Linked DNA regions of Homo sapiens: region 2 is linked to region 1. Evidence: fine-mapped expression QTL. Tissue or cell type: whole blood. Region 1 holds a variant in brackets; the other region holds the start of a gene. All regions are shown on one strand. Distances are from middle to middle.

Region 1 (2,681 bases):
AAAAAAAATCAGGCCAGGTGCAGTGGCTCATGCCTGTAATCCCAGCACTTTGAGAGGCTGAGGTGGGCAGATCACTTGAGGTCAGGAGTTCAAGACCATCCTGGCTAACATGGTGAAACCCTGTCTCTACTAAGAATACAAAAATTAGCTGGGTATGGTGGCAGATGCCTGTAATCCCAGCTATTTGGGAGGCTGAGGCAGGAGAATCGCTTGAACCCAAGAAGCAGAGGTTGCAGTAAGTCGAGATCATGTCACTGCACTCCAGCCTGGGCAACAGAGTGAGAGTAAGACTTCATCTCAAAAAAAAAAAAAAAAAAAAAAAAAATCAAAGGGTACAGCCAGGCTGAGCACAGTGGCTCATGCCTGTGATCCCAGCTCTTTGGGAAAATAAAACAAAAAAGAAATCTGCAGCTCCACCATCATTATCCCAGCAGCACACCAGTCTTCCCAGCAGACACTGTCTCAAAAAAAATGCAACTTTCTTAAGCAGTATCCAACTGTATGGCTGTACTATTTTTTTTTTTTTTTTTTTGAGACAGGGTCTCACTCCATTGCTCAGGCTGGAGGACAGTGGCCTGATCATGGGTCACTGCAACCTCAAACTCCTGGGCTCAAGGGATCTTCCTGCCTCAACTTCCCAAGTAGCTGGAACTACAGGTGCATGCCACCACACCCAGCTAATTTTAAAAATTTTTTTGTAGAGATGGGGTCTTGCAGTATTGCTCAGGTTGGCCTCAAACTCGAACTCAAGCCATCCTCCCACCTCTGCCTCTCAAAGTGCTTAGACTGTAGGTGTGAGCCACTGCACCTGGCTGACTATGGTCTCATTTTTACAAAAAACAAGTTGATATGGACATATTTGTCTAGGAAAATTCTAGAAGGTTTACGTATACCAAAATGCTAAGAGTAGTTTTCTCTGAGTGATAGATTTTCAGATAATTTATATTTACTTGTTTTCCTTTTATATGATGAAGACAGGGAAGAATCCACTCCCTTTTCAGGCTCACCTTGAAGTAACCTGTGGATTATGGTCCTAAAAGCCCAGCTGTATTTAAAATACAACTTTCTTGGCCAGGTGCAGTGGCTCACGCCTGTAATCCCAGCACTTTGGGAAGGCCCAGACAGGCAGATCACTTGAGGCCAGGAGTTCGAGACCAGCCTGGCCAACATAGCGAAACCCTGTCGCTACTAAAAATACAAAAATTAGCTGCGCGTGGTGACTCATGCCTGTAGTCCCAGCTACTCAGGAGAGAGGCATGAGAGTCGCTTGAACCTGGGAAGGGGAGGTTGCAGTGAGCCGAGGTTATGCCACTGCACTTCAGCATGGGCCACAGAGACTCTGTCTCAAAGAAAAAAACAAAAACAGAAGAAACAAC[T/A]TCCTTAAACTCTTTTCAGAGTAAGACAGTTGAACCTTTCTTGGATCACTAAAGAGCCTAGAAATTTGGTGGCGAGTGCTAACCTGGGGCCACTGAGCTTGGCAGGGACAGGTGGAAAAGTAGATAGCATTCACAGATGGGACCTGTGTATATGCTTTGGATTTTATTTAGCATATACCAGCAAGTATAGGGTTAGCAACATACCCTTTCGTAAACATATTTTTATACTTTCTTATGTGAGAAAAAATTTGCATTCCTTATGCAAGTCTTTCAGATAAACTTTACTGGTTAGTATTTTAAGAAATAATGTACTTTAAAGGCCGGGCGCAGTGGCTCACGCCTGTAATCCCAGCACTTTGGGAGGCCGAGGCGGGTGGATCACGAGGTCAGGAGATCGAGACCATCCTGGCTAACACGGTGAAACCCCGTCTCTACTAAAAATACAAAAAATTAGCCAGGCATGGTGGTGGGCTCCTGTAGTCCTAGCTACTCGGGAGGCTGAGGCAGGAGAATGGCGTGAACCCGGGAGGCAGAGCTTGCAGTGAGCCAAGATCGTGTCACTGCACTCTAGCCTGGGCGACAGAGCAAGACTCCGTCACAAAAAAAAAAAAAAAAGAAATATTGTATTTTAAGAAAGCTTTGGTTAGCCATTTAGGGATGAAACCTGACATGCAGTCCTTTGACGGTATTAATTCCTTGCTTGAGACCTATGCCTTTGAGGAGAGGAGGTCTCGCTGGCTGCCTCACGTGTGCCTGGCTCTGAGGGTGGAAAGGCCTGGACTGCTCTTTTGAAACTGGTTTGCCTGAGATGTGCCTGGGGCCGGCTACATCTGGTTCTGGTTTGAGGCAGGCTCCGCTACTTGTAGAAGTTTTGACATATTTGGAATTAGTATTATCAAACAGGTCCCTAGGTTATATAAATCCTAGGATTTAAAAAAGCAATTGAACCCATCGTTGGATTAAACCCACAGTTGATCAGCCATAGCACTGTTGACATTTTGGACTGGATAATTTGTTTCTGTAAGGAGCTGTCCCATGCATTGTTTAGCAGCACCCTGGCTTCTACCCACTGGATGCCAGTAGCACTTCCCCACCCAGCTATGGCAACTAAAGATGTCTCCAGACATTGCCAAATGTCCCACTGGGGGGCAAAATTGCCCCCCACTTGAAAACCACTGGATTAGATCTTCATTTGGGGCCTAAAGATTTGTCAGCCTTTTCTCCAGGCTGGGAGCTCTCTGGGGAATGTTTCTCTTAACTTTTATACTGTCTGTATCCTCTCTGAAATTGTTCCACATGTGTTCT
Region 2 (2,681 bases), 220 kb before region 1:
TGAGACTGAGTCTCGCTCTGTTGCCCTGGCTGGAGTGCAGTGGCTCCATCTCGGCTCACTGCAACTTCTGCCTCCTGGGTTCAACCGATTCTTGTGCCCCAGCCTTCTGAGTAACTGGGATTACAGGCGCACACCACCACGCTTGGCTAATTTTTAGTACAGACGGGGTTTCACCATGTTGGCCAGGCTGGTCTCGAACTCCTGACCTCAAGTGATCCGCCCGCCTCGGCCTCCCAAAGCACTGGGATTACAGGCGTGAGCCACTGCCTCCGGCCAAAGTAACACTTTTGCACAGGGAGTTGGACTTGAGTGACAAATGGGTGACAAAGTGCTTTGTTAACTCGCAGATGTGAAGGGGACACTGCGGCTGACCGCCTGGTGACAGCTAGCCAGTGGTTGAGAGACCGCAAGATGGTTCCTCGTCTTTCACTTCCCTCCGTCCCAGGTCTGAACTCGGACCAGCTGGAGCCTTTGGGGGACCACGGATTCCCCTTTACACTCACACAGATTTCTCTTGTCCGTCACTCACTCACAGTCCAGTAAGGATCCTGCTGTCTATTCCGCGAAGACATCTTGAATGCAGGGACAGCCATTTGGAAGACTGTCCTCGAGGGTGGCAGCAGCCTCTCAGGACGGGGAAAGCCAAGGTGCCCACTAAGCCCGTCTGGGGTGGAGGGTGGCAGGCCGGGGTGGAGAGGATTGGAGGCCGCCTGAAGGAACCTGTGCTCGGTGGCATTTACTCAATGTGGGGGTCTGACACCTCCCAGCTCATTTTGTCCCCATCTTCCCCTTGCGTCAGGTCCCCACCCAGCAGGAGGAGGTCCGAGGATCTGCGCGACGCTGGCCCCGCGGAGTGTGGGGGACTTTTCCTCTCAACCACCAGTGCCCCGCAAGCGTGGGTGAACAGTCCTCCCTGGCTACTGTGGGACGCTGGGCAGGCGACTTCGCCTCTCTAGGCCTCGGTTTTCCTGCTTGTCAAATGGGGCTGATGCCGGCGTGGGCTTCTTCAGGCGGTCGCGAGCGTTGACCCCTGGAGTCAGCGAACCAGCCGCGCACGCACTCCCGGGCGGAGGTCGGGGCTGGGGGGCGACGCCTCCCGTCTGCGCGCCCCCGGCCCCGCCTCCCGCCGGCGCACCCCTCCCTCGGCTCCGCCCGCGGCCCGCTTCTTCCTCCCGCGGGCGGCCCAGCCCTAGCGCCCCGCGCTCCGCGGGCAGCCCCCTGCCGCCGCGCCATGTCCGCCGGCTGGTTCCGGCGCCGCTTCCTGCCTGGGGAGCCGCTCCCCGCGCCGCGGCCGCCTGGGCCGCATGCCAGCCCCGTGCCCTACCGACGGCCCCGCTTCCTTCGCGGCTCCAGCTCCAGCCCCGGGGCGGCCGACGCCTCGCGCCGCCCAGACTCCCGGCCCGTGCGCAGCCCCGCACGAGGACGCACGCTACCCTGGAATGCAGGCTACGCCGAGTGAGTGCCCCTCCCCGACCCCCAGCTCAGGCCCGGGCCTGAACCCGCTTCGGGTCCTGCGCCCGCCTAGAAAGCGGGAGGAGCTGAGTGACAGTCCCCACCCACCTGTGGACAGCCCCTTCTTGCCCTCACCTCCGAATCCTGACAACTTCCCGGTCATCCCGACCCAGCGTTTTCCTTGGGATTCCGACCTCCCCCTCAGAGAAGACAGGAGGTCGGGAAGGACCTGCAGCCCAGGGGCTTCCAAGATGAGGCCCAGAGACTCGGTAGAGTTCCAGCATTCGGGGCTTTGGAGATTTCCCCTCGCCCTCTACCCCCACCATCTCACCCTGGGTATGACCTGCGCTGTATGGGACAGGGCTTTGGGCTGCGACAGGACAGGGGCAGGAATGGCAACCTACCCTTACCGTCTAGCCCTGGGTCACCAGGTAGGCTCCAGAGGAGCTGGGCCCTGACTTTTACCTTAGCCATGAGGCCAGTGAAGTTAGGAAGCTTACATCGTGGTTGTCTAAGTGTGTGTTAGGGACAGCACTGGGGAGCTGTTGCCCCAGAGGGAGGGGTCTTCTCCCTGTGCTGGCTTGGGTCCCTGTGCCCATGGGGACATAGGTGTGTCCCTGGAGGGTCGCTTACCATTTCCCGGCCTCAGGATTATCAATGCAGAGAAATCTGAATTCAATGAGGATCAAGCCGCCTGTGGGAAGCTGTGCATCCGGAGATGTGAGTTTGGGGCTGAAGAAGAGTGGCTGACCCTGTGCCCAGAGGAGGTGAGTGCAGTCTGAGTTCTTGGCTGGAATCCCTCCGACAGGCTGGGGCCACGACCTGCAGGCTGAGGTTCTTACCCTGCTGCCCCAGGTCCTAGTTAGGTTGCGTCAGGGGACAAGTGGGGAAGTCAGGCAGAGGCTGACACTGAGCCCTTCCTGTGCAGTTCCTGACAGGCCATTACTGGGCACTGTTCGATGGGCACGGCGGTCCTGCAGCAGCCATCTTGGCTGCCAACACCCTGCACTCCTGCTTGCGCCGGCAGCTGGAGGCCGTGGTGGAAGGCTTGGTGGCCACTCAGCCCCCCATGCACCTCAATGGCCGCTGCATCTGCCCCAGTGACCCTCAGTTTGTGGAGGAAAAGGGCATCAGGGCAGAAGACTTGGTGATCGGGGCATTGGAGAGTGCCTTTCAGGAATGTGTGAGTGTGTGGCTTTTGGCTGGGGAAGAAGTGGAGATTTTGCCCC

The links. PIP is the estimated chance that this variant, and not a neighbour inherited with it, causes the effect.
Region 2: it holds the start of PPM1M, and the variant in region 1 is fine-mapped to the expression of PPM1M in whole blood (INTERVAL, PIP 0.92).

What each region holds. Positions count from the first base shown.
Region 1 is chr3:52,459,888-52,462,568 of GRCh38, forward strand. The region is part of intron 3 of NISCH (nischarin); the gene reads left to right. Among named protein-coding and RNA genes, the nearest start is that of NISCH, 5.6 kb to the left of the region's middle. The variant T/A (reference allele first, on the strand shown) is at 1,377.
Region 2 is chr3:52,244,594-52,247,274 of GRCh38, forward strand. PPM1M (protein phosphatase, Mg2+/Mn2+ dependent 1M) reads left to right here and starts at 1,166. Exons shown (of 10, transcript NM_144641.4): 1 at 1,166-1,455; 2 at 2,102-2,219; 3 at 2,381-2,635. The coding sequence starts at 1,232. RefSeq lists silencers at 1,040-1,409, 1,450-1,509.